Homo sapiens: one gene and its partners. The protein of the gene in region 4 interacts with the protein of the main gene of each other region in a pairwise test. Each region holds a gene or a part of one and is shown on either strand. Other genes may lie near its edges. The genes, in order: OIP5, KAZALD1, TXNDC9, KLF11, LOXL4, ERGIC1 and ZXDC.

The links.
Region 1: the proteins of KLF11 (region 4) and OIP5 interact in binary tests that used the Homo sapiens proteins (3 or more experiments, as listed by UniProt).
Region 2: the proteins of KLF11 (region 4) and KAZALD1 interact in binary tests that used the Homo sapiens proteins (3 or more experiments, as listed by UniProt).
Region 3: the proteins of KLF11 (region 4) and TXNDC9 interact in binary tests that used the Homo sapiens proteins (3 or more experiments, as listed by UniProt).
Region 5: the proteins of KLF11 (region 4) and LOXL4 interact in binary tests that used the Homo sapiens proteins (3 or more experiments, as listed by UniProt).
Region 6: the proteins of KLF11 (region 4) and ERGIC1 interact in binary tests that used the Homo sapiens proteins (3 or more experiments, as listed by UniProt).
Region 7: the proteins of KLF11 (region 4) and ZXDC interact in binary tests that used the Homo sapiens proteins (3 or more experiments, as listed by UniProt).

What each region holds. Positions count from the first base shown.
Region 1 is NC_000015.10:41,315,498-41,319,277, forward strand, and holds part of OIP5 (protein Mis18-beta), read right to left. Parts: intron 1-3,780. UniProt on the Homo sapiens protein: Required for recruitment of CENPA to centromeres and normal chromosome segregation during mitosis.
Region 2 is NC_000010.11:101,060,717-101,064,996, forward strand, and holds the start of KAZALD1 (kazal-type serine protease inhibitor domain-containing protein 1 isoform a precursor), read left to right. Parts: upstream 1-1,272; 5' UTR 1,273-1,399; intron 1,400-1,825; 5' UTR 1,826-1,876; coding exon 1,877-2,387; intron 2,388-3,489; coding exon of another isoform or gene 3,490-3,544; coding exon 3,545-3,705; intron 3,706-3,784; coding exon 3,785-3,932; intron 3,933-4,109; coding exon 4,110-4,204; 3' UTR 4,205-4,280. UniProt on the Homo sapiens protein: Involved in the proliferation of osteoblasts during bone formation and bone regeneration. Promotes matrix assembly.
Region 3 is NC_000002.12:99,319,315-99,323,094, forward strand, and holds part of TXNDC9 (thioredoxin domain-containing protein 9), read right to left. Parts: intron 2,896-3,780; coding exon 2,641-2,895; intron 2,470-2,640; exon of another isoform or gene 1,812-2,469; intron 486-1,811; coding exon 368-485; 3' UTR 1-367. UniProt on the Homo sapiens protein: Significantly diminishes the chaperonin TCP1 complex ATPase activity, thus negatively impacts protein folding, including that of actin or tubulin.
Region 4 is NC_000002.12:10,046,276-10,050,055, reverse strand, and holds part of KLF11 (Krueppel-like factor 11), read right to left. Parts: coding exon 3,637-3,780; intron 2,407-3,636; coding exon 1,461-2,406; intron 1-1,460. UniProt on the Homo sapiens protein: Transcription factor. Activates the epsilon- and gamma-globin gene promoters and, to a much lower degree, the beta-globin gene and represses promoters containing SP1-like binding inhibiting cell growth.
Region 5 is NC_000010.11:98,265,214-98,269,769, forward strand, and holds the start of LOXL4 (lysyl oxidase homolog 4 precursor), read right to left. Parts: upstream 2,982-4,556; 5' UTR 2,919-2,981; intron 2,610-2,918; exon of another isoform or gene 2,418-2,609; intron 164-2,417; exon of another isoform or gene 1-163. UniProt on the Homo sapiens protein: Catalyzes the oxidative deamination of lysine and hydroxylysine residues in collagen and elastin, resulting in the formation of covalent cross-linkages, and the stabilization of collagen and elastin fibers.
Region 6 is NC_000005.10:172,924,492-172,928,271, forward strand, and holds part of ERGIC1 (endoplasmic reticulum-Golgi intermediate compartment protein 1), read left to right. Parts: intron 1-2,017; coding exon 2,018-2,078; intron 2,079-3,780. UniProt on the Homo sapiens protein: Possible role in transport between endoplasmic reticulum and Golgi.
Region 7 is NC_000003.12:126,462,122-126,465,901, forward strand, and holds part of ZXDC (zinc finger protein ZXDC), read right to left. Parts: intron 100-3,780; coding exon 1-99. UniProt on the Homo sapiens protein: Cooperates with CIITA to promote transcription of MHC class I and MHC class II genes.

The DNA of each region.
Region 1 (3,780 bases), on a different chromosome or scaffold from region 4:
TTTTCCTTCATGTTTAGGATGCTATCATCAATAGATGTAATGACTGTAATTGCAGCAGCCATCCCGAATCCAAGAGGAAAAGGCCAAAGTTTCTACTTAATCAAAAAGAATGTCCTGACCTTTTATCCAACTCATTTTAAAGATTAAGAAATTAACCAAAATCCCATAATGCTTTTCAAATTTATGTTAAAAATATGTTACTAAAAGCTTACTGCCCTAACAAAAATGCAATTATTGCTTCTCTAGAACATTTACTTTTGTACTGATTTCTAAAAAAGATGTGGGATTACTAACAGCACACATTTACAGTTTTTTTTCCCACTTTAAAGTTAATTCTAAATAGAAATTGCTTAAGAATCTAGAAATTGGTGGCGCAGTGGCTCACACCTGTAATCCCAGCACTTTAGGTGGCCAAGGCAGGAGATCAAGACCATGCTGGCTAACACGGTAAAACCCCGTCTCTACTAAAAATACAAAAAAATTAGCCAGACATGGTGGCGGGCGCCTGTAGTCCCAGCTACTCGGGAGGCTGAGGCAGGACAATGGCGTGAACCTGGGAGGCGGAGCTTGCAGTGAGCCGAGATGGTGCCACTGCACTCCAGCTCCAGCCTGGGCGAAAGAGCAAGACTCCGTCTCAAAGAAAAAAAAAAAGAATCTAAAAATTGAGGCTGGGCATGGTGATTAATGCCTGTAATCTTAACATTTTGGGAAGCCCAGGCAGGAGAATCACTTGAACCCAGGAGGTGCAGGTTGCAGTGAGCTGAGATCATGCCATTGCACTTCCAGCCTGGGTGACAGAGTGAGACTCCGTCTTTAAAAAAAGAGAATGATCAATCCATCTCAGGATCTCAGGTATATATTTTGTGTTGGAAATTTGCAATGAAGAACAAATGGTATACCTAATGCACAGTGAGCAACCCATGGTAAAGGACTGGCTGATAAGTTTTATTGTTTAGTCAACCATAACTCAGCTAAAAACATCTATCTAAGCATAAGAAATGAGAAAAAGCGGCCGGGCGCGGTGGCTCATGCCTGTAATCCCAGCACCTTAGGAGGCCAAGGCGGGCGGATCACGAGGTCAAGGAGATCGAGACCATCCTGGCTAACACAGTGAAACCCCGTCTCTACTAAAAATACAAAAAATTAGCCAAGCGTGGTGGTGGGCGCCTGTAGTTCCAGCTACTTGGGAGGCTGAGGCAGGAGAATGGTGTGAACCCAGGGGGTGAAGCTTACAGTGAACCAAGATCACGTCACTGCACTCCAGCCTGGGCGCCACAGCAAGACTCCATCTCAAAAAAAAAAAAAAAAAAAAAGACATGAGAAAAAGGAAACCTTTTAGTTTTATGAAAGGAAAATAAGCTTTTGAGTTAAGACATGCTCAAATCTCAGCTCTTCCACCTCTTTGAGCCCTAGTTTTCTTAAACTATATTAAGAACTCAGTGATATAAGCATAATGCCTACATAAACTAGGTTGTCAATGCTTGTTTTTGTTTTTTAATGGTCAAGGAAAGACTTCTAAGGATGTTTCAGTTTCTTGTAATAAGTAAAAAAGCTTAAGTTAAAAGTGCAATTTATTAGGAAAATAATGAAATAGCCAATGTAATTCATGAGAAAGGATAACCAGTAGGGTAGTTTTTCTGACACTATGAGGCTACATGATCATTATTTTTACTTTTCTCTGTGTCTGCTTCATGTTTTACTGCAGAGAAGACTTCCCTGCAGCTACATGCATCACATGGGAAATAGCTATCCCATACATAGAGCTTTCACTTCCAAACTTCAACACTAGTACTATCTACACGTAACTGGTATTTCTGGGCCCTTGTTTCAAATTCCTAAGGTAGAAAACTGGTTGGCTTAGTTTGGGTCAGGTATCCATTTTTCTTTTTTTTTTTTTTTTTGAGACAGAGTCTCGCTCTGTTGCCAGGCTGGAGTGCAGTGGCGCGATCTTGGTTCACTGCAACCTCTGACTCCCCGGTTCAAGTGATTCTCCTGCCTCAGCCTCCCAAGTAGCTAGGATTACAGGCATGCGCCACCATGCCCAGCTAATTTTTTTTGTATTTTTAGTAGAGACGGGGTTTCCCATGTTGGCCAGGATGATCTCGATCTCCTGACCTCATGATCTGCCCACCTCGGCCTCCCAAAGTACTGGGGTTACAGGCGTGAGCTACCACGCCCAGCACCGTTTTTGGTTTTTAAGAGACAGGGTCTTGCTCTGCTCCCCATGCTAGAATACAGTGACACAATCATAGCTCACTGTAACCTTGAACTCCTGGGCTGTAGCTATCCTCCCACCTTAGCCTCCAGAGTAGCTAGGACTACAGGCATACACCACCATACACAGTTAATATTTTAAATTTTTTGTAGAGACAGAGTCTTGCTATGTTGCCTAGGCTGGTCTCAAACTCCTAAGCTCAAACAATCCTCCAACTCAGCCTTCCAAAGTGCTGAGATTACAGGCATGACCCACCATGCCTGGCCAGGTATTCATTCTTGATCCAGTACCTGGGAGTGGGAATCACACATGATACAAATCACACATGATACAAATATACAAGGCCCCACCTATTAGAGGGAGAGAGAGGCTGGGCACAAACCCAAAAGGTATCTACTGCAACATTATTTTGCAAAAGCTTGCCTTCTAGAATGTTCTTTTTATCTTTTATTTATTTTTATTTTTTCTGAGACAGAGTCTAGCTCTGTCACCCAGGCTGAAGTGCAGTGGCTTGATCTTGGCTCACTGCAACCTCCGCCTCCTGGGTTCAAGCAATTCTTCTGCCTCACCTCCCGAGTAGCTGCGACCACAGGCGTGTGCCACCACACTTGGCTTATTTTCGTATTTTAAATGGAGATGGGGTTCCACCATGTTGGCCAAGCTGGTCTCGAACTCCTGACCTCAGGTGAACCCCCGACCTCAGCCTCCCAAAGTGCTGGGATTACAGGCGTGAGCCACTGCACCCGGCCCATAAGGGAGCAGTTTGAGATGGGAGGCTTCACCATGTTGCCTAGGCTGGTCTCAAACACCAAGATTCAAGTGATCCTCCTGCCTCAGCCTCCTGGGTAGCTAGAATTACAGGCACACACCACCACATCTGGCAACAAGTTTCTTTAATGAAAGAATACCCTCTGAATTTTCCCATGGTATGACTTTTAAGATATGGTATGATAAGACATGGAAGATAATCATAATGTTATAAGATTATATTTTGGTCCCACTGCTTTTTTTTTTTTTTGTCACCCAAAGTGGAATGCAGTGGTATGATCACAGCAAAATGTAACCTTGAACTCCTGGGCTCAGGTGATCCTCCCACCTCAGCCTCCCAAGTAACTGGGACTATAGGGGCACGCCGCCACATCCAGCTAATTTTTTAAAATTTTGTATAAAAAAAAAACAGGAGTCTCACTATATTGCCCATGGAGGTCTTGAACTCCTGCCCTCAAGCAGTCCTCCCACCTTGGCCTCACAAAGCATTGGCATTACAGGCGCGAGCCATCACACCTGGCCCACTGCTATCTTTTTGTCAAAGACAGTGCCTGACTTTAGCATCTTTTTGGTACAAACACTTTGTCTTTTTTCTTTTTTTTTTTTTTGAGACAGAGTCTTGTTCTGTCACCCAGGCTGGAGTGTAGTGGTGCAATCTCAGCTCACTGTGCAACCTCCACCTCTCAGGTTGAAGCAATTCTCTTGCCGCAGCCTCCCAAGTAGCTGGGATTACAGGTGTGCACTAGCATGCCCAGCTACTTTTTTTTTTTTTTCCTTTGGACAGAATCTCACTATGT
Region 2 (4,280 bases), on a different chromosome or scaffold from region 4:
TTCCTGTTTAAAATCCGCGGGCTCTTAGTGTTCTCGGTTCCTAGATTTCCTGTTCTGATTCTCGCGACAGTTGCGAGGCCTCGCGTGAAGTTCCCTTCTAGTCCCTATTTCGAATTTGAGACCGGGAGAGAGTGTCTGCCCTTGCCCACCTCCTCAGAACCCCTCTGGCCAGGGATGGCGCCTACGTGGCTCGGGAGCCCCTGAATGAATGGGCTTGGCCCAACTTAGGGGCGCATTCCGACGGGAGAGTCCTGGCTGTATTCCGAGGCTCCAGTGCGCATGCGGAGTCGATCCCGCGCAGGCGGGCGGGGACGGCAGCCGGGTCTTGTGGGCGGAGCCTGACTAAGTGCCGCCCCCTTGCCGGCTGCAGATTGCTATTTCTGCCCCCCACCCTCGCCCATCCCCCCGCGAGCTGGACTGCGCCAAGGCTTCTGTGAGCCGCTTGGGGCCGGCCGGGGCGGGGCCTGCCCGACCCGGGTTTGGCTGGCGGGCCCCTAGGAATGCTCTCCTCCCCGCCCCCGGCCCAAAGTGCCACGGTGGCGGTGGTGGCGGCCGCGAGGCCGAGTGTCTCCGGCCCTGCCAGCCTCGCAACCGTAACCTGTAATCCCGACCCGAGGGACGCCCGCCGGGGAGGCGCCAGCCCGCCTCTCCCTGCGGCCGCTGGTCGGCTCCGACCTCGAATCACCCGGCTCACCCGCGGGTCGCAGCACCTGCCGGATGTGGGGAGGAAGAAGGAGGCCAGATGAGGGAAGGCGGATGTAGGCGCCCAGTCTGTCCGCGCCTTGGTGGGGCAGCTGGGTGGGCAAGCCTGCGGTCGCTCCCGGGAACCAGCCCTGGGCTGCGGGGAGACGAAGGTGGTTGGTCCTGCCCTCCAGGAGCGCCCCGACATCGACGTAAAATGACTTGGCACCAGAGCTCCTGCCGCCTCCCCCTTATGCAGCTGCCCTCGCCGACGCCAGGGACTGTAAAATCAGATGGGACAGGGCCTAGCCGTTCAGCCAACACTTTGAGCTTCCCAGCCAAACTCCTACCCCCACTCCCCGCCTCCGGTCCTCACCCCCTTCCTCTCTCCCAGCCTCGGTGTCTGGTTACGGCTCCTCTGCTCGCATTGTGACTTTGGGCCAGGCTGGGGGAAATGACCCGGGAGGGTCCCATGCGGCTACATAAAATTGGCAGCCTTAGAACTAGTGGGAAGGCGGGTGCGCGAAGTCGAGGGGCGGAGAGAGGGGGCCGGAGGAGCTGCTTTCTGAATCCAAGTTCGTGGGCTCTCTCAGAAGTCCTCAGGACGGAGCAGAGGTGGCCGGCGGGCCCGGCTGACTGCGCCTCTGCTTTCTTTCCATAACCTTTTCTTTCGGACTCGAATCACGGCTGCTGCGAAGGGTCTAGTTCCGGACACTAGGTGAGCACTCTGTGCCCCAGGCCATAAGCGAGGCGGCATCAGCCCCCCCAGTTCTCACCCCCCATTAGCAGCTTCTTACTTCTGGAGCCACCCATTCTCTTTGGGCAAGGATGCTCAGGGGCCAGGGATCGGAGTCGGGTGGTGCACGGAAGTGGTGCTGGTGGTGGGTGTGCGTGCGCCTGAGCCTTATCACCCTTTCCTCACCTCTCTTCACTCCCAGCCCTCCCAAGAACAGCCCAACTGATTGCTAACTGCCATAACTGGATAATCCCTAGAGGGTCACTAGGCCTGTGTGTTGGGGGAGGCTACTTGGTAGCAGGGGAGGGGGCGATGCTAGTGTCATGCTTTGGTACAAGAAGCAGTGAGGTTGGTCTTTCGGCACAGGCCCTGTTTCTGACCTCCTGACCTGGCTTCCCTTCCTGGCAGGGTGCCCGAACGCGCTGATGCCCCGAGTGCTCGCAGGGCTTCCCGCTAACCATGCTGCCGCCGCCGCGGCCCGCAGCTGCCTTGGCGCTGCCTGTGCTCCTGCTACTGCTGGTGGTGCTGACGCCGCCCCCGACCGGCGCAAGGCCATCCCCAGGCCCAGATTACCTGCGGCGCGGCTGGATGCGGCTGCTAGCGGAGGGCGAGGGCTGCGCTCCCTGCCGGCCAGAAGAGTGCGCCGCGCCGCGGGGCTGCCTGGCGGGCAGGGTGCGCGACGCGTGCGGCTGCTGCTGGGAATGCGCCAACCTCGAGGGCCAGCTCTGCGACCTGGACCCCAGTGCTCACTTCTACGGGCACTGCGGCGAGCAGCTTGAGTGCCGGCTGGACACAGGCGGCGACCTGAGCCGCGGAGAGGTGCCGGAACCTCTGTGTGCCTGTCGTTCGCAGAGTCCGCTCTGCGGGTCCGACGGTCACACCTACTCCCAGATCTGCCGCCTGCAGGAGGCGGCCCGCGCTCGGCCCGATGCCAACCTCACTGTGGCACACCCGGGGCCCTGCGAATCGGGTACGCATGGCCCGGGGCCCCCACCCCAGCACTTAGGTTTCCTAGAGGCACTGCTCCCCGACCCCTGACAGCATTGGTCTCTGGCCAGCAGAGCAAAAAAGATAAGGCTATAGAGGCCTCGAGTCCAGTATAAAACCCTGCTCTCGCTACTGGTTCATAAAAGCTGCCACCTTAAGGTGGGGGTGGGGGGTGGAGTGGAGTGGGAGTCCCGGGCTTCGTCAGCAAGCTGCATTCGCTGAACCACGTGAAAGCTCCAGAGCTGGCTGGCAGGGAGAGACAGGTCCTCTGAGGGCGCAGGCACATAACCTATGGTTTGCTCAGAGACCCCCCCGACTTTTCCCAGACCAGTGGAGTCCAGGCAGCAAGACGGGTTCCTGTGAGATGCAATCACGTTTCATTCTTAGAGCAGTTTGTTCACCCAGTCTCCCCACCTCTCTGCTTTCTCCTGCTTTTAGGGATTAGTGAAGGGGAGCGGGAAGTTCTTTCTCTATCCCTGGGGACTGGGGTCCATTCAGGCCTCTAGCTTTCCTTGGTAGCTTTAGTAACTTTCACTTCCTGAGCCCGGGCTCTGCGTCTGGCTCGGCTGGGGCAGCCAGAAAACAAACACCCCGTGGGGGTCCCAGCAATTTCCTCCACTCCTGCAGGCTTCCTGCCTGTCGCACAAGTCCAGCTTCAGGTTCTCTGCCTTGCCGCAGGACTCCCCCAGGGGGTACTGAGGAGGGAACGGCTGCTTTTCCTCCTTTGGGAACTGGGCCTGTTTAGAAAAGGGGAAGGGGGATCTGGAAGGTTTTGATTACAGGCACGCAGGAAAGGCTGGGGAGGGTGAAATGAGGACAGGGGAGCAGTTAGGGACAGAGTGGCTGCCAAGCTACAATGTAGATGTGTGTGCTTGTTTGTGCATTGGGTCTGCATGAGGTTCTATGTGCACATGTGCATGTATACCTATCTCCACGTCTGCGTGGTACCCTTGTGTGTACCAGCATCCATATCTGTGTGTACCTGTGTGTGTCACGGTGTGTTTATGGATGTGTATTTACCTCAGCATATATTGTGTTCTGCCACAAGCATGTCCACAAAAATTTGTGTATCATGTCTTTGCCAGACTGGATGCCTTTGCTGGGCCATGCTATTCTCAGACCTCCCGCCTTCACCCCCAGGGCCCCAGATCGTGTCACATCCATATGACACTTGGAATGTGACAGGGCAGGATGTGATCTTTGGCTGTGAAGTGTTTGCCTACCCCATGGCCTCCATCGAGTGGAGGAAGGATGGCTTGGACATCCAGCTGCCAGGGGATGACCCCCACATCTCTGTGCAGGTAGACTGGTGGGAGAGGCTTCCCTCAGGCAGCCCAGGGCCCTCCAGAAGGACCCTGCTGATTCCTTGCCTGGCTCCAGTTTAGGGGTGGACCCCAGAGGTTTGAGGTGACTGGCTGGCTGCAGATCCAGGCTGTGCGTCCCAGTGATGAGGGCACTTACCGCTGCCTTGGCCGCAATGCCCTGGGTCAAGTGGAGGCCCCTGCTAGCTTGACAGTGCTCACACCTGGTAAGGGGATTCCTGAGTTCTGGGGGTTGGGGGGATGGTGCTGGATTCCAGTTGTGAATGTGTAAGAAACAGACCATGTGTCTGTATACACAAGCATAGCCTTCCGCAGACTGGGCTATGTGGGCACCGACAGCCCCTCTCTCCTGTTCTCTCTTCTTTGCCCATGTGTGTTTGCAGACCAGCTGAACTCTACAGGCATCCCCCAGCTGCGATCACTAAACCTGGTTCCTGAGGAGGAGGCTGAGAGTGAAGAGAATGACGATTACTACTAGGTCCAGAGCTCTGGCCCATGGGGGTGGGTGAGCGGCTATAGTGTTCATCCCTGCTCTTGAAAAGACCTGGAAAGGG
Region 3 (3,780 bases), about 89 Mb from region 4:
CTTGACCTCTTGTATAAATAATGCCGATTAAGAATTAGTCCTGGAATAGTTTTCGAATTTCTAACTCTGTAGATCTAAAACACAATTGTAAATGGTATAAAGATGTAAGAATCATATTGTGATAAAGTCAATCTCAAAAATAGAGAATCCAGACCCTTCCCAGATAATTTAAGAACTGAGTTTTCCTCAACTTAAACATGATGGCCACACAGAAAACAGTAAAGACACTTTTCGATGTGATACAACTGTATAAAACTCGAGAATATGAGTATTTAGGTGACCAATGTATAGACATTAATAGAATTTTAAAAACACATTTAAATCTGAAGCAGAAAAAAAAAGACAATTTACAAAGAATTATTGAGCTCTAATCATCATCAGAGTCTGAATCATATTTCTTTCCTCGGATAGTTTTCTTTTCCAGCTTTGTGAAGTTTGTTCCAAATTTCTTTTGGTTCTGAAATGGTGGCTCCATTAAATTTCCACTTAAAAAAAAAAAAAAGCATTTTATTCTTTATGATTTAGTACTAGTATACTAAACTGCACAAAAATCTATCTTTGTTTTCTTCCTGTAACATAGAATAAAATTTCTTTAAAATGCTGGTGTCAGGGAAGAGGTATAATGCTTATATTGATATTGATGGTTAATAGCCTTAAACCTTATTGTGTCCTACTGAATGTTTTAGATCAATTTTATTTTCCTTTCTTTTTGAGACAGGGTCTCACTCTGTGGCCCAGGCTGATGTGCAGTGGTGTGATCACAGCTCACTGCAACCTCCAGTTCCTGGGCTCAAGCGATCCTCCCACCTCAGCCTCCCGAGTAGCTTGGACTACAGGCGTGTGCCACCATGCTCAGTTAATTTTTACATTTTTTGTAGTGATGACATCTCACTACATTGCCCAGGCTTGTCTTGAACTCTTAGGCTCAAGCAATCCTCCTGCTTTGGCATCCCAAAGTGCTGGGATTATAGGTATGAGCCACTGCACCAGACCTATTTTCCTTTTTATCATTAATTATGGATTAACATTTGGTTAACACAGTGCTCAGTTGTCACCGGAAATGAGAGAAACCATCACACACCTCCCGATATGATGCATCACTTCCATAATATGCCCGTCAAAAATCGATAATCTGAATCTAATCTTGAGGAAATTTAAGACAAACCCAAACTGGGAGATGTTCTCCAAAATAAACAGTTTGTACTCTTCAAAAACATCAGTCTTAAGAACCAAAGAATAACAATGGTAACTAAAGACGTAATAACTAAATGTGCTGCATTTTTGGTATGAAGGACAATTATTGGGACAATGAGAAAACTTGAAATAAGAGCGGTAAATTACACAATAATTCCTGTTTCAATAATTGTACTGTCGCTACGTAAGAAAATGTTCTTGTTCTTAGAAAATATATATGGAAGTCTTTAGGAGTAAAGGGACACTGTATTCACAATTTCCACTCAAATGGTTCCCAAAATACTTCATAGTATCTATAAAGACAATGATAAAACAAATATAAAATGTTTAAAATTGGGTAATATGGGCAAAGGGTCAATGAGGATTCGTTGTACTAGTCTGCAGGGGGTTGTTTCTACTAGTTTTTTGTAGAGACGAGGTCTCATCTCACTATATGTTGCCCAAATTGGTCTCAAACTCCTGGCCTCAACTGATTCTCCCACCTCAGCCTCTCAAAGTCTGTAATCTTCTGAGATTACACAAGTGCCCCACCCGGCTGCAATTTGTTTAAGGCTTAAAATTACTTCAAAATATATAACTTTATTTAATAAATATTAATATTTTATGTTAATATTAAGGAAATGAAACCAATTTCTACAACATAGGAATGATTTCGGCATGTCTAGGAGAGTCAGAGAAAAGACGGGAGGGAAATGGGGGAGAAAGAAAAACGTGAGAGAACCTTCTACTTCCTGAAAGGCACCATGACTCTGGAATGGTAAGTGCACAATTTTACCTGTTACTTTTGCAAATCAAGAAAAGGCAAAAAAGACAAGATGATATGCTCTGATTTGTGGAATTAGATAAATTATTTGTCTGAAGAAGTGGACAAAGAAATGGAAGTTGGATTTTAGATTGTTTTCAAACTAAAACTGTTCTTCATAGCAAGCAATGTAAGCTAGGCATAGAAACCTTTTTCTATTCATCAGCCTCTATAAGTAAAACAGAAATATCCATGTTAAAAATCTAGTATTTTAAAATATAACTTTCTTTGCAAGAGTCTGCTTTTAATTTTTATTTTATCAAAGAGAATCACTTAAGTCAGAATTCATTTGAGCAATCTGGCTTAAATTGGGGAATAGTCAACACTGGATTGCCATTTTAAGTTTCCAGATTAATACAAAATTAGTGTCAATAGTATACGTTAAGCTGAAAACTTTTATAGTCAGGAGTACGGTGAGACTCAGTTTTACCTATTAAATCAGTTTAATCTGTAAATCTGATTTTGCCGTAAAATCACGCTAATATTACACACTTCAAAAAAACATGCTTTTCCTTTGAGAAACTTTCCACATCTCAGCCAAAATGCCTTAATTTCATAAAATAAATGTTACAATACAAAAATCTTTTGTAAAAATATCAACTATATATGAATTAAAATCAATCTCTTCTTTTGTTAAAAGTTACCTGTAATTAAGAATGTCAGAAGAACCGAGCCTCCATTCTAAAGTTTCTGTGGTGAAGTCATCTGTATTTCCTAGGTCAGTAAACCCAACAACATAATCTTGTGTTTTCCCATCTTTTAGCAGTGCTAGTGTGGGAATGACTTTGATATGCAGTCTCTCACAAAGGAAAGGTGCTTTTTCCACATTCAGCTTCAAAAATTTGGTCTCGAGGTGTTTCTTGGACAATATTGCCAGATGTCTGTCTAGTATTTTACACCTGTAAGTGACCACACATAGAAAATTATAAGCTAAAACCACAGATCGCTTTTTTCAAAATAAATATCATCAAGGGAAATCTAATTATGTAGTTTTTCTGTTGACTCTCATAACATGGCAGCCAACTTAAACTTGTGTCAGATGACCTCACTTCCAGATCAGAGGTTAGCTGCCTGATTACGAGATGGGAAAACAGCCTATAAGATTCTAGAAAGTCAGATTTGCATTAATGATATTCTCTTTTAAAATATTAAATATATGCTTTAAGTCATAAAGGAAGTTGTCCTATCTCCTACACAGGAAACTTGAAGAGGAACAAACTGAAACTTGACAAAACTCGGAAGAGACTTACAAGAATCAGAAGTGCACACATGGTGCCATATTTGGAAGTCATGAAGAAAAACTGAACAGCATTACCGAGGAAAAACTTCTTACTCCTAAATATGCAACGCTGTCAGTAAGAAGCACATTAAGGCTAAGGGTTACTAATAATATTTAAATAAATGTGGCCATTATGCTTCTAGGAAATTAAAAAATACCAGTAGTAACTTTTTTATTTTTTATTTTTTTGGAGGTGGCGTATTGCCCTGTCCCCCAGGCTGGAGTGCAGTGGCACAAGCTCGGCTCACTGCAAGCTCCGCCTCCCTGGTTCATGCCATTCTCCTGCCTCAGCCTCCCAAGTAGCTGGGACTACAGGCGCCTGCCACCATGCCCGGCTAATTTTTTGTATTTTTAGTAGAGACGGGGTTTCACTGTGTTAGCCAGGATGGTCTTGATCTCCTGACCTTGTGATCCGCCTGCCTCGGCCTCCCGAAGTGCTAGGATTACAAGCGTGAGCCACTGCACCCAGCCTACCAGTAGTAACTTTTATTAAGCCATCTTCCAA
Region 4 (3,780 bases):
GTACTTCTACCAAGGTAAACCAAATAAACGGTAAAACTTCATTCAGTCACCTCCAACATTTGGAAGCTGTGCTCTGGTGTAATGCAAAGTTCCCCTGGAGAGTCCCGGTGAAATGCAGAGCTCACCAAGTCAACAAGCCCATTAAAAGAGGCAGGCAGGTCAATTCCCCTCAGAAACACCCGTTCCCTGACACAGCCCCACGTCCATCTGCCATGCAAACAACCAACCCTCATTTACTGACTAGTGTCAGGCCCTTTTATCAAGCACCAGGAATATATCCAGGTGAGATATACAACTAACTAAAAAACAAAGGGAGACTATAGTAAGACCTACAATAAACCACTAGGGTCAAAGAAGGAAGATAAAGAAACAATCTAATAACTAATCCTAGGAAGGCCCTCAGAGGGTTTCAGTAAGTAGAGATGGGCAGAGGGCCAAGAGGGAAGGGTGGAAATATGGAACCAGACATAGAATGTTGGGGAGACTGTTTCTGAATGGGCAGAGGTGAGTACCTCATGGGCCAAGTTTGGCTTTATCCTCAAAGCAAGCAGCCACTCAGTAGAATGGAGTAGTAGAGTTCCTCTTATAATGTCTGAACACCAGACTGCACTTTATTCTACACGTGGAGGCTACCACGATCAGAGCAACAGAACACAAACTCACAGAACACCTGAGAAATGGTGCCCTCACCTACTGAAGCGATTGTCTATCCAGCAACACTCAGACCACTGCTGCGCAGCAGGGCAGCCACAGGTCCCATGGAGCTATTTAAACTTCAAATACTAAAAAATGTAAAATTCAGTTCCTCAGGCACACTAGCCACACACTTCAAGTGTGAGCAGCCAGTGGCTACCCTAATGGACAGACAACAAACATTTCCACCATTGCAAAAAATTATATTGGACAGAGCTGGTTAGACAACAGAGAGATCATTAGGTCAGCATAGTTTCTTGTGTGACTTACTTTAAATTAAAAACTACTCTCAGAGGTAAGAAAACTATACTCTTTTAAAAAATATTTTAGAATTTGAACTTTTCTATAGTTTGGCCAGACCTTTTCTCACATAAACATAAGTCACACTGGTAAGATACATTTACTAAATGTGAATGAATGCATGTTTTCTTTAAAAAAAAAAAAAAAAAAAAAAGGATGAAACGTCTACTGCAATGTGAACAGAAGGGGGCACTGTAAGTCACTCTAAAAGCTACCAAAAGACACAATCACAGAACTATACTACATTTTATCTTCCAGGGCGAGCGCTCTGTAGGCAAAATCCTGATGGCTGTGCAAACAATCCCACCCTTACAAGGTTGTGCGGGCTTTTCAGAACCAAAGAAAAAGCCACACTTCCACCTTCGCCAGGGGTTCTCATGATCCCCTCCCAGCCAAAGGCGGCTCAAGGTGTGCTTCCTAACCACAGGGTCTGGTGTGCCCAATGCCCCACCTGCCCCAGCGCTTACCTGTGTGAGTGCGAAGATGGGCCTTAAGGTGGGAACTTTTGAAGTAGGTCTTCCGGCAACCTGGGAAGCTGCATACATAGTTCCTCCTTCGGGAAAAGTCTACCTGAGGGACACAGTTTTGGCTAGAGGTGATGAACACTGGAGCAGGGGCAAGGGGCAACAACTTGGTATTCCCGGCAGCCATGACATTGGCTGCACAGGGGGCAGGCGGAGGGAGGGCTCCCTGGGGCAGGACCAACATCACAGCTCCCTGAGGCACAGCAGGTCCCACGAACACAGGTTGAGGCGCTGGAGCAGCCTGAGCTAGGATGGGTCTCACAGTCCCCACAGACAACTGGGGAGGGGGCTTCAAAAAAGCTGGTAACATGCTACTTTGTCCAGTCACAGGGATCATCTGGCAAAGGACAGGGGGAGCAGGGACAGAGACAGAAATCAGAGGGGTGGTTTTCCTGGGCAGGTCATTTTCATAATTCTTTGGTGAGCAAGTCTGAACTGCACCAGGCCACCCTGCCTGCTGGCCTTTGTCAGTGAGCAGCAGGCCACCAGACTTGTGCAAGCAGGGCTGACAGGACACCAAGTTAGTGCTGAGTAAACTGTCCGTGAGGTGTGTGTCCTGCAAAGTTTCAAAGTGTCCCAGAAGCTGCTCTTCTCCTTCTCTGCTGTCAGAAAGCCGGCAATCTGGAGTCTGGATGGTGGGAAAGCAGGCAGCAGGGCTCTCCCCAGTGTGTCGGATCACGCTAGTCCCCTTGGCCCTGCAGGGAGAGCTGGGCACTGGCTCCAAACCCAGCAAGCCCCTCTCCGCGCCCCCGCTCAGAGCTCTGGCCACTACGGCAGAGGACTGGAGAACATCCGTGGCTGTACATGCTTTGGAATCTGTTACTTGGGGAGAAACAGGTGTCCTTGTCGATGGCTCCACGAGATCAGGGCTCTGAGGAGGAGTTATGCACTAAAAAAAAAAGTACCATGTTAAAAGGTTGCTTTAAATTTTAAAAGGGATTTAATTCATCACAATGCTCCCAATACCTTTACACAGAATCATCTAGACACTCAGTTAACCCTGTTTTCAACATCCCAGTGGGTTTCAAGGCTGCATGAGGCACTCTGCTTTCTCAGCTTATTCCCAACGTGTTTACCTCTCCCAAACCTACACAAGAGCCCAGTGCAGGGAACTCTGAGAGGAGCTCCTGGCCGCCAGGCCCACCACTTCTGCAACCCTCCCGACAACCCACAGGCCCTTCCTATCCCTCTCCAAATCTGCTTTCTACACTCTTCTTTCAGAGCAAGCTTCCAGCCCAGGACAATCACAATTTCCACTTCTGTTAGCAACCTACAGTTCTCAGCTTCTCCAAGCTGAGATGCAATTTTTCCAAGTACTTTCACAGATGTAGCAAATTAAAAAAACAAAAAGCAAGAGTGACTTACTGCACCCAACTCACAGAACTCACATTAAGGAGTCGGCTGCCACGGGAGGGCAGAGGTGCCACCCAACGAAGGCAATCTGATGTCAAAGTACATGCTTTCTCCAGCTGCTACCGATATATTCTGACACTAGGCTGGAGAACCTAAGCTCCACCCCGAGATTCCCCTGGGGAAGTAAATTTCACTTTCTCACATTAATCTGTAGGTTTCATCCCACGGACATTAACCACGTAGCTAGCAAGGTATGATCCATCCATAGAAAGAGCACATTTTTCAGAAATGAAAGAAAAGTTTCTTTTTTTGTTCTTTTATTTTTTTTTGAGATGGGGTCTCGCGCTCTGTTGCCCAGGCTGGAGTGCAGTGGCACGATCTCGGCTCACTGCAACCTCCGCCTCCCGGGTTCAAGCGATTCTCCTACCTCAGACTCCTGAATAGCTGGGACTACAGGCGCCCGCCACCACACCCGGATAAATTTTGTACTTTTAGTAGAGATGAGGTTTCACCATGTTGGTCTGGCTGGTCTCGAACTCCTGACCTTGTGATCTGCCTGCCTGGCCCTCCCAAAGTGCTGGGATTACAGGCTTGAGCCACCATGCCTGGCCAAAGGAAGAGTTTCTACTCCTTCAGACCCACACAGAGAGGATACGCAACTTATTTGCCAGCATCCCAGGGAATCTTCTCACAAGTTCTTCAACACACTGAGTTCAGCTACTCTAGTCATTTCACAAAAACGCTCCTCCCTCCCACCTCCTCTTACCAGAGTCGATAAAGAATGGAAGTCTTTTGGTAGTTCAGGTGTGGCTGCATCCATATGCACAGTGGTGGTGACATCCCCAGAGTCAGAGACAGGCGTGAGGGGTCTTATCCGCAACAGGTCACCTTTCTGGGATCTTTGACCCCA
Region 5 (4,556 bases), on a different chromosome or scaffold from region 4:
TGGAAGTGATCTTGGGCCAGCGATTTAGTTTCTCCCTGCCTCAGTGTCTCCCTCTGTAAAGTGGGGATAATAATAGTAACTACCTCATAGGATTTTTGTAAAGATTAAGTGAAGAAACATTAAATCCTTAGAAGAGCAAGCCTTCAGTAACAATGAACTATTATTATTATTATTATTATTATTATTATTATTATTATTATTATTTTTGAGACAGATTTTTGCTCTTGTCACCCAGGCTGGAGTGCAATGGCACAAACTCGACTCACTGCAACCTCCGCCTCCAGGGTTCAAGTGATTATCTTGCCTTAGCCTCCCAAGTAGCTGGGATTACAGGCATGCGCCAACATGCCCAGCTAATTTATCTGTATTTTTAGTAGAGACAGGGTTTCACCACATCAGTTCTTGAACTCCTGACCTCAGGTGATCCACCCGCCTTGGCCTCCCAAAGTGACGGGATTACCAGCGTGAGCCACTACATCGGCCAACAATGAACTATTATTAACAGCTACTGTGACAGCGACGATAGAACCGTTGGTCTAGATTGGTCCCACCTCCTCTCTGTACAAAGAAGGAAATGGAGGCCACGTCCGATCTCAACTGCAAGTCCTTGGTACTCCTCTTTGCAGCCTTCTCTAGATTTGCCCCTTTTCCCTCCACCCACACTGCAGAGCCTAGATGCTCCCCTCTCCACTCCCTGAGGCTGTGCAGGGGCTGCCTTCCCATTCTCACCTCTGCAGCTCTCCCCCTCTGACCCCTCCCACGCTTCCTTTCCAGACTGAAACACTGTCTTCTGCATGTCACTCAGAGGCTTGTGGGGGCTCCCAGCTGGCTGTCCCATGAGCAGAGTGCTCTCCATTGTTTCCCATTCCCTCCTCCGTGCTCCCTGGAGTAGGAGGTAGACAGCCAGGGACTGAGCCAAACCACTCCCCAGATGGCAAGAAAGGATGGGACAGATCGGCCTCAGGTCCCTCAGCTATTAGGACCCAGTGGTCACATGGGTCTGGGCTGAGTGACAACCACACCTTCTCTACCACCCCCAGGAGTTGGAATGCTTCTATCTCTGCCGCCAAATTGTGTCTGGAGTCAAATATTTTCCTTTCTCTGAGTCTCAGCTGAAAAACCTGTAAAATGAGGGGGTGGCACTAGACAGCCCCCCTATCCGACATGCTCTGATGGGGCCCAGGGTAGGCTGGGCAGGTCTGCTGTTTGGCTCCTGGCTGAAGTCCCTGACACACTGAGGAGGTCTTGTTACAGGCTGTGGACAGTCCCAGGCCAGCAGCTCCTTCCTCTCCAAGGGACCAACCTGAGGGCATGGGAGGGCTTCTGCTGTAGGACCCTGGGGTCTGGGCCAGGGAAGCTCCCTTCCATGAACGCTGCTGGAAGGTGGGGGGACGGCAGCGGGAACCAAGAGTTAGATGCAGGGAGAGTCCCTCTTATTGGCCTTCCTGCCCACTATAGGCCCCCGAGAGCTTTTGCTCACACCAGACTATAGCCTTCGTCTCCCAGCCTCCAAGCCTTTGCTCTCACTGTTCCTTTCCCTCTATCTAAGACTGTTAAACTCCTACACATCCCACAAGGCCAGCTCAAATGCCACCCCCTCCATTAAGCCCTCCCACAAAGCCTTCCACAAAGCACATTGTGTGTTTGCTTCCTGACCCCACAACCAGACTCCACCTGTCTGTTCCCCTAGCACTGAGCACAGAGGACCAAGCTGTGCATCCTCCCTCAGAGAAGGAAGCGGCCTCGAAAGTGGCCGTTACTTTCCCAAATAAAGGAGAAGGGGACAGAAGAGGGAAGGAAGGTGGAAGGGAAAGAGGAGGGGAGGGAAGTGAGGATAATAACTATACATTTTAAAATACGGATTAAATACTTATCTCCATTTTACAGATGAGAAGGTAAGGTCCAGGGAAGTCAAGTAACTTGCCCAGCCAGGATTCAAACCCAAGCAGCCTGGCTAGACGCCGGACTCTCAAAACCACCAAGAATGGATGTTGGAAGAGGGGGAGGAGGAAAGGAAGGCCGGGAGCCGACTGAAATTCCACCCTGTTCTGGTGGATTTATGACCCAGGCCGTGGTGTGAGGGCACTGGGCAGGGTGCTCTTCGCTGAATGCCGAGTGACAGATCCAAGATCTTGCCAGCTTGAGGCACAGAGGCACCTGCTCCAGGTGTGCCAGGAGATGCTGGGACCTGGCCTGACCTAGCGCAGGTAGGGAGGGCTGAAGACAGCAAATGCCCGAGTATTCAAGAGAGAGCATGGGGGGTGCTGTCCTGAGGGTGCAGCAACTTTAGGATGGCTCATCCCTTCTCTGCCGTTGGGCAGCTCTTCTCAGCAGCCTCCTCTCAGCCCTGTAGCCTCCCCGGGGTTACTGACTCTGTGGACCTGAAGCAGTGCCAACAAATGGTCTCTGAGCTGTACCTGTCCAGGCTAGGAAAGAGGGGGCTTGAAGTCTTCTGCCCCCTTCCCTTCGGTGTTTCTGTCACACGCCGACCCCCCAACATAATCAGCTCCGGTCTGGATAGTTGGAGAGCCCAGATCAGCCCTGGTTCGTTGTCCCCCAAGTCGTAAGTGTGACATCTGAACCCGCCTTGCCCCTTCCCTGTCTCCTCCCTGGAAGAAGGCAGAGCAATGGTTACACACGGCGTGTACACAAACAAGACACGCAGGCACCCCTGAGGCCTGGGCGCACCACTCAGGGCGGGCCTTGGGCCAAGCTCCCCAGCGTGGTCACTTGTCCAGTTGGAAGCAGGTTGGTGAGCGACTGGAGGGCCGGGCTGAGGGTCCAAGGGATCCCCCATGCACCCTAGGCCCAGTCTCCAGGAACCCTCAGAGGCCTGCAGACTCACAGAGAGACAGAAGGACAGATGGGACAGCAAGAGGCAGACCAAGAGGCAGACGCGCGGCCAGGCGGGGGCTCACCAGATGGAGCGCGGACAGTCCGGGGCTGGGCGGGCGCCGCGGCGGAGCAGCGCTAACGGGCTCCCTCCCCGGGCGCCCTGGGGCCTTTTTATCCGCCTCCCGCCCGCGGCCCCCCAGCCCCGAGCTGGCCGCGGAGGAGGCCCCGCAGGCCCCGCCCCGGGCGGGCCTGGAGTCCGCGGGCGCCCCGCCCGGCCTTCCGCGCGGCGCCCCCCGTCGGGACACAGGCCAGGTGGCGGGGGCGCCCAGCCGCAGCCGGCGGGGCCGGGAAGTCCCGGGGGGCGGGGGGAGCGGGGGGGCGGCGGGGGGTCGCGGGGAGCGGAGCTCTCGGGAAAGGGCGGCGCTGGGCCCGCGGCTGTTTTGCAGGGAGGGCCGCGGCGGCCTCGGGAGTCCCTCTCCCAGGCAGTTTCCTCTTTTGCAGAACAAGGTAATGACGCCCACCTAGAGTCCCAGTCTGTGAGTCCTGGTGGGTGCCAGGGCCCCCGGCACAGCACCCTTCGCACGGGAGCGCCCGGCTGTCACAGGGGCCGAATCTCACGAGCTCGGTCACTTAGGACAATGTAGACGCCCTTTCTGGGAGGCCGGGGCTCAGTTCAGAGAGGTCGAGGTGGCGCGGTGCAGCGGTGCTCTCCTGCAGGAACAGGCGAGTCACCCAGAGTTTACTGAATACCGCCCCCCCCCCCCCCCCCGCCCTCCGTGTGAAACTCTGCGCTGCCCATTGTGCAGCTGGGAACACTGAGCCCCAGGCGACATAACTTGCTCCTCCAGGCAATACACAGTGAATGGGAGAACCCCTTCACAGAGCTGAATGATGCAGTCCTGGCCCTTGTCAGACTCACGGGAGGAGGGTGTTAGTGCAGGGAGCAGGGACTGTAGAATTAAAGAAATGTGGACATGGCTGACAGAGAGGAGTCCCATCAGCTGAACTGAGCACCTAGGTGCCTGAACCCCAGTCCAAGCCCCCAGTTTCTTTCCCCTAGACCTGGTCCTGCCCTTAGCCTCACTGGCCCCATCTGTAAAATGGGCAGAGGGTTCCAGCCTCCCGGTTTCCTCCCTAGGCCCACAGCTGCCCAACCTGGTTCCCCCTCTTGCCCCCACCTTGCCTAAACGTCCTTCCAAAGGTTCATTCATCCCACAAGCCTTTATTGATTTTCTCCTACATGCTAGACAGGGTGCTGGAGTGCTAGACGCTGGAGGGGGCCTTCCCAGTCTGGTGGGGGAGGCAGATGTGCAAGTAAGAATAAGCCTGGACAGGCAGAGTGTGATAGAGCTAGGATGTCAAGATGGACCTTTTCGATCCTGGGTGACAGCCAGGTCTTAATGACCCTGCTGCCAGGGACCTGCCATCCACTCCTGGCTGCCCGTGTCCAAGATGTCCCCCCAGTGCCCCTGCCCCACCCCAGCTGGGCCCAAAACATTCCCCATGATGAATCAGCAGGAAAGAATGCTCCCAGCCTCGGGTCAGTGGCAGCAGCCCAGCTCCTCCCCCAGGGACAATGAGGCAGCTGTGGGCTTGGGTGCCAGGTATGCCTAAGCCCTCTCCTAGGGCCCAGCCACCTCTCATGCTGAGCCAGAAGCAACACAGAGGGTTCGGAAACGTGGGCTCTGCCTGCTGCCAATCACTCACCAGGCCTGGCTGCC
Region 6 (3,780 bases), on a different chromosome or scaffold from region 4:
TGGGGTGTGTGGGGTGCGAGAGACCCGTGGTAGACTGAGGAAGGTGGAGACTGAAGGTCTGGTTGGTGACTCAGAGCACCCATCTGCAATGAGGAAGATGGACCCAGGAGGCAAGACTATAGGCAGGGAGGTGAGGGAAGGGCCCAGACCGAGGCAGGTGGAGGGGAGAGGAGCAGCGGTCTCGCATTGCCACGTGCAGGGGCAAAACAGAAGGACACAGAAACTACAGTCCCAAGTTTAGTCATTAGTGGGGTGGAAATCTGATTTTTTTAAAAAAATGTACAGAACTTAGCTTAGGGCCCATCCATCCATTCATTTTCTGTCCATCCATCTAGTCAACAAATATTTACAAAGTACCTACCGTGTCCAGGCCTTGCATACCTTGGTGAGGACAAACATGGTCCCTGCCCACCTGGAGCTTCCAGTCTAGGGGGGAAGACAGATGTTGATCAAATAATGGTACAGGCCAGGTGCGGTGGCTCACTCCTGTAATCCCAGCACTTTGGGAGGCTGAAGCGGGCGAACTGCTTGAGGTCAGAAGTTTGAGACCAGCCTTGCCAACATGGTGAAACTCTGTCTCTACTAAAAATACAAAAATTAGCCGGGCGTGGTGGCAGGCACCTGTGATCCCAGCTACTCAGGAGGCTGAGGCAGGAGAATCACTTGAACCTGGGAGGTGGAGATTGCAGTGAGCTGGTATCATGCCACTGCACTCCAGCCTGGGAGAAAGAGTAAGACTCCTCCCAAAAAAAGAAAAAATAAAAATAAAAATAAATGGTACAAATAAATGTGAGATAAAGCCATGTCACATGACAATGGAAGAGAACATTCTAGCCTTCTTGTCTCTGTAACCACCGTTCTCATGGGTTAGAAATGAAGCCTTCACACGGTCAGTCTCAAGACAGCAAATAGACAAACTTCCTTTTCCTTGTTGAGAAATTGCAGTTCCTTCCAGTTGTTGAGGAATTGCTTGTTGAGAACATGCAGGTGTGTTAAGTGCTCAGTAAACATCAGCCGCCTGAGACCAGGATCAGGGATTATGCCACCCCGCTGCTGCCCACTGCTCCTGGAGTGGCCACAGAATCATGTCCCCACGTACCTCTCCGATGTCTCCTCCTTCCTTCTATTCAAACACCTCACTCTCCTTCCTCCTGGGGGCCACGTGGGCCTGTCTCCATACTTAAGCCTTTGTACATGCTGCTTGCCAGTTTAACTTCCCACTTTCCTCCAGATCTTGGTGTCAATGTCATTTCCTCCAGGAAGGCCTCCAGGGTGTCTAGCTCGATAACCCCTGTTAACCATGCCCATGGTAGCATGCTCCATTTACCAGGTATGCCTTGTCCTTCTTTAGATGTTCCTTGAGGCCAACCTGGTTTCCCATTGTCCTCAGAGAAAAGGTGAGATGTGGTTTTCAGCCCTACTCTACAGCAGCCCACCCCACTGCCCGGAGGAGGGTTTTCTTCACATCTGCTATACGTTCTCTGCAGCAGACATGATGGGGGGCCCACAGCTCTGGGGCATCCCTGCCTGGACTCCTCTATGGGCCTTTCAGAGGACCCTGGGATCTCAGGAGAAACTTTCTGGGACCCAGAATCCATGTTCACTTGAATTTTCTGTGTGACTTCATGGAAAGAGTCCAGCTTAGTGTCAGACAGACCTGATTTCAGAGTTTAGCTTAGCCACTTACCAGCCGGGCAAGTTTTGGTGTCTTTCCAAGCCTTGATTTGCTCTTCTGTAAAATGGGCCCAATAATACATCATTAGGGGCATGAAATGAAATTATATGAAGGGGCCAGGATGGAGCAGCACATAGTAGGGGCTAGAGATGGGAAACAAGCTTGTGCCTACTATGTGCCAGGCCCCTGCTGCCTCTTGCTCCCCACAAATCCGCTGGAGCCCCCTTTTACACATTGGTAGGGTTCCTAGACCAGGTGGTACCTGGCCATCCCCCACAACCAGGGCCAGGCCTGGAGGTGGAGGTGTCCTGGGGACCATCCCCTCACTGCATTTTTCCACAGGTCCAGAACATCCACGGAGCTTTCAATGCTCTCGGGGGAGCAGACAGACTCACCTCCAACCGTATGTATCCCTGCTGGGAACAGCCTTCTGCTCCAAGATGCCCAGTACAGCAGGCAGGGAGGGGGAGGGCAGAGAGGTGGGGGTGCCTGTCCAGCACCCACTCCAAGGCAGGGAGGCTGCTGCTCACACTCCATTCCCACAGCTAACCAGTGGGAAGGTGGACCCAGCCCCGTCCAGACCCAGACCCTGATGGAGAAGGAAGAAGGCTTGTCCCGGGGCACAGCAGACGCACGCACGCAGTGGATACCAGCTATTACCATTATTGTTGCTCTCATCACAGCCACATCATCATCCTTAGTTGAACTAATTACCTAAGATCCCACAGGGAGCTATGGCAGAACCAGGATCTGTTCTGCCTCCAGGTCGCACCGTGAGAACAGGTCTGTGGGTGGCCCAGTCAGCTGTGACCACATGGCTGCCTCCCCCACACCTCACTCTCCTCCTGCTCAGACTCCTCCCATCGATAGTGGCTCCTCCTAGAGTCCTCGCCCTCCTTAGCTCCCTGGCACCTTGGCCCAGATCAAAGAGAACCGCACATCTCCACACGCAGACAGGAGAGCACGCATACCTTTCGTGCACACCAACACACATGAGCTCACATGGCCCCAGACACGTGCACAGAATGGGCCCGGGAGGCCTGTGTGCTCAAGCAGACCTGCAGACCCACTGCTGCACAGGGTACCTGGATTTTTCTTATTTCCTCACCTGAGCTCACCTTTTAACCCACATCTTTTCTTATTATTTCCTGAAATGCGTTTGCTCTCCCATTGTCAGGGATCCAAGGCAAAGAAAACATCCCTCTGTGACCTGCCCCCCCGACAAATCGAACCTCATTTTTCTGTGTCCCTGTGAGTCCTTGTCCATAAGCAGAACTCACTTTTCTTTTTTTCCAAGGCATGGATTGCAGTTTACCGTCTGCTTTTTGTACTTGACCTTATTACATAGCCACGATTTTCTTACTTTCCAGTTGTAATGGGAGCACAGTTGTCCATCTTGCAGCTCTGCTGTGCTTTTTTTTTTTTTTTTTTGAGACGGAGTCTTACTGTGTCACCCAGGCTGGAGTGCAGTGGCACAGTCTCGGCTCACTGCAACCTCAGCCTCCCGGGTTCAAGCAATTCTCCTGTCTCAGTCTCCCGAGCAGCTGGGATTACAGGTGCCTGCCACAATGCCCAGCTAATTTTCTGTATTTTTAGTTGAGACAGGGTTTCACCACGTTGGCCAGGCTGGTCTTGAACTCCTGACCTCAGGTGATCTGTCCCCACTCTGCTCTGCTTTTCTAAGTCATTGTCTTCTCACCGAAAGTGTCTGTCGTTTCCTGTGTTTCACTGTGGCAATAATGCCTCTGATATGTACAGGGTTGGCGCTCTGTTACCCGATTGCTTTCCAGCTGTGTCTGGTTCCCATTCATGCTGCCTCCAGCAACGGATAAGTATACGGCAGCACCTCCTTATTTGAGTGCAAATGTCTGGTTGTAATAGAGGTAGATGATTCTTGGTGTGGTGCCGTGGTCATTGTCGTTTTGTGTCATGGTAACATGTCATCCGACGTCGGCCGTCCACAAATGTCTGCAGCTACGATGGACCCTCAGCTGCTGGACAGGAAAGAGGATCAAGCTAAGAAGGCCCAGAGTGTGCAAGCAGAGAGAGGGTGTGGACAGAAAACCTTGCCTTCTCCAGGGCTAGTGGCGAAAGCTATCTCAGGC
Region 7 (3,780 bases), on a different chromosome or scaffold from region 4:
GTGCAGCAAGATCCATGTTAGTGAGCTCACTTTGGCCTGGGCTGCTGAGTTCACTGCTGGGAGTAAGAGAACTCGGAGCTTCTAGCTGAGGTAAGAGATCTGAAAAAAAAAGGAATACACTCTGGTTACTTTATGACCTTGAAGACTGAGTACTTTTGTTTATGCCCATGATGTTACCGAGTGATGCCCCAAGGAAGCACTGACTGTCCTCTTCCCACACCCTGAAGCTTGGTTATCACGACAGAGTCCCATGGCCGGTCGCTCAGGGCAACCGACACACACCCCAGGAAGGGACAGGAAGGGACACTGGCTGAAATCAGACACTTTACGTACGCGTCTTGGATCCTCAGGCTGACAGGGCTTTCTCCAGGGGAAACAACTGGAGAGAGATTAAATAACATTTCCTAAGGTCAGGCCAACTGGTAACAGCAAGAAGCAAAGTAAGACTTGCATCCATGTCTTTCTGGCTTCAAAGCCTGCACCCTCTCCCCTCTAGGTGCCACCGGAGCTGCCCGAGAGGACTGAACCTTTCCACTCAGCTGCCAGTTGCTAGCTGGCCTGTGCTCTGAGGATATTTTCCGAATCAGCTTGTCAGCTCATGTTTGCCAAACTCTGTGCTCCACTCCACAACTAGCTGCCACCCCAAAACCGACTGGAGCCATATAGGGGTGAACAAAGGAAATAAAACTGGCTGCCTGGCAAAGCCAGGACAGACCCAAAGCTTCAGCTCTAGGCAGATGCACAAGACTTCCAGGCATGCTGGGGGCCCCCTAGACGGAGCTTTTCCTGATGGGCTTTCCCTCCCACAGCCTCCCCTACCACTGCATCTCCAGCCTCACATTTCCCCAGCAGGACTGCAAGCCTCCTGAGGGTGGAGAGCCATCTGACCACCACTGTCCCCTCAGCCCCCAGCACAGTGCCCAGCCCTGATGCAGCATGTAATTATTATTATTATTATTTTTTTTGAGAGGGAGTCTCGCTCTGTCGCCCAGGCTGGAGTGCAGTGGCGCGATCTCGGCTCACTGCAAGCTCCGCCTCCCGGGTTCACCCCGTTCTCTTGCCTCAGCTCCCCGAGTAACTGGGACTACAGGCACCCGCCACTATGCCCGGCTAATTTTTTTGTGTTTTTAGTAGAGACGGGGTTTCACCGCATTAGCCAGGATGGTCTCGATCTCCTGACCTCGTGATCGGCCCGCCTGGGCCTCCCAAAGTGCTGGGATTACAGGTATGAGCCACCACGCCTGCAGCATGTCATGATTCTAACAGGCCCTTCTTCATCTGGAGTCTTAATTTCTGGTCATAATACTCTTTAAATATTTGATTATTTGTTATTCAACTACGTAATTTAAATAATCAGCATACTTTTGGGGGAATAATGACTTCCAAAAAATTTTAATGCATAGGCAAGTTTAGGGTTTGTATACAAGTACATGCCAATTACACCAAATCACAGGATGCTTCAAGCATCAAGCAAACAGTAAAATGGGAGCATAATTAATTTGGGCAAAAGAGCCAAATAAGGACTTGATGTCACGCTTTCCATAGGACTGTCCCCAGCAGCTTCCTGACTGTGCCAGCACCTGGCCCAGAGGAAAAGCTGCTCTCGGTTCTCTGATCCTATTTCTCCCATGCCAGCTGTTACTGTTCCCAAGCTCATACCTGCAGGCTGTGAACACCTGGCCAGAATGTCTATTATATTTTATATTTTTAATAATGCAAATCTACAAAAGAAGTCTATTCTAGACAAAAAGAAAATCAAATTCAGAATGTATCCTCTTTAGTTGTCATATTACTTTAAAGATTAAAAAAAGTATCAATATAGTATCACTTCTTCAATAAATATCCCTTAGTACCAATGAAGCATTTTGAAAGAAAATGGTAGTGATCCTTTGGAGAAATTAAAAATGGAAAACTATGTCAGTTTTTCAAAACTTCCTAAAAATTCCCTTGACTCTCTTGAGGACTCAGCTCCCTGTGAAGAGATCATGAATAATCTCAGTGCAAATGATACCCACTTATTAATAAATTTCTTACTTAGCACTTTACTAATTCTATAAACATTTACTACCAGAGACCAGACATGTACAAGGGCCAGATATTAACACAATCACTAAATAAACATTAGATAGCAGAGCATCTGGCAAAACAGTCATGATCACCACAGTTCAAAGCCCAGCCCCAGCCCTTCTTGCAGGTGTGACCCTGGCAAGTCCTTTCTATCTTGGTTTCATCAGTGACAAAGCAGTGAGGAACCCACTCCCAGGACCACCATTAGGGGGACTGAAACAACCCATTGAGGGCGTGACATAATCCCACGGTAACTGGGTGTTCTCGAGTGCCTGTTTTTCACTAGACGAAAGGGTGACACCTGGTCTTCTACCCCTGACAGCTGGCAGGGGGATGACACACAAATAAGTCATTGTCACACAGGAAATTCAATCCTGGGATACATAGGTTGCTACAGAAGAGGGTCTCACATCCCACTAGAGTTTAAGGAAAGTGCATCTAGTATAACACTGGGCCTCTGCAGACTTCTCAATTGGCCAGGTCAGGAAAGGGGAAGTGTGCCATGAGAGGGAACGGCCAAACAGGGGAGAGGCCTAAGTGATGTAGTCTCACAGAGCCCTCAGAGAAAAGGGGCCTGGTCATGTGGGCCTCTGTGAGCAAAGGTGACACCCTCCAACATGAATCAGGTGGCACGCACATTCCGTGTCCTCAAGACACTACTAAAGCCAGAAGGGCAATTTATTTAAATATAAAGCTGAACGGCAACTGCTGTAAACTGTGAAAGATCAGTGTCCAAGATCCCAAGGAGGGGCTTCATGACCACTTCTAAATAGGATCACAAGAAAGCAAAGGCCACAGAACTGCCCTGAGCCCAACCCCTCACCAAACTCTGTGCGAGGCATGGAGGCCTGTCCCTTGCCAACGCGGCAGCTGTGACACAGCTGCGCCCCAAAGCCGGTGCTCTGCTGTGGTGCTGCTGGTCACACAGGAGACGTGAGGACCCAGTTGGTGACACACACAGCCTCCACGGACTGAGCAGCAGAAGTAACTCTAGGGCCAGCTAGGATGCCATCAGCCAGGCCCGGTGAGGAGCGACAACCGCACCAGGGCCCAGAGAATAGGGCACATGGGTGTGCTCCCCAGAGGGGCCGCCACCACAGCTGCCAGGCACTTCTGTATCCTGGACTGTGGAGAAGGCCTAGTGGGGTAGGTTTCCTAGTCCCATGCTGCAAAGCTGCCCAATGACTAGGCACTCACACACTCAGCATTCCCCTCACAGGTCACCAGGCCACCGTCACTTTCCTCTCTAACCCTGCCCTCTCCAGCCCTCGTTACTCCCAGTCCACTCCTGAAACACAACTCTGCTCTAGCCTTTGTTACTTGGAGATAGAATAGCTGAGGCAGACGGAAACACAGGAGGGGCAGGTTCAGAATTCAGGACAAAAGTCCCAGTGAGAGACACAGGCTTAGGGGACATATGCTAGGGAAAGTCAACAAAGTGAAACATTCTTCCAGGAAAGCATTTCAAAGACATGGGAGGGGCAGGGCATGGTGGCTCATGCCTGTAATCCCAGCACTTTGGGAGGCTGAGGTGGGCAGACTGCTTAAGGCCAGCAGTTCAAAACCAGCCTGAGCAACATAGTGAAACCCTGTCTCTATAAAAAATGCAAAAATTAGCTGGGCATGGTGGTGGATGCCTGTGGGCTCAGCTACTCTGGAGACTGGGGTGGGAGGATCACTTGAGCAGGAGCCTGAGGTTGCAGTGAGCCATGA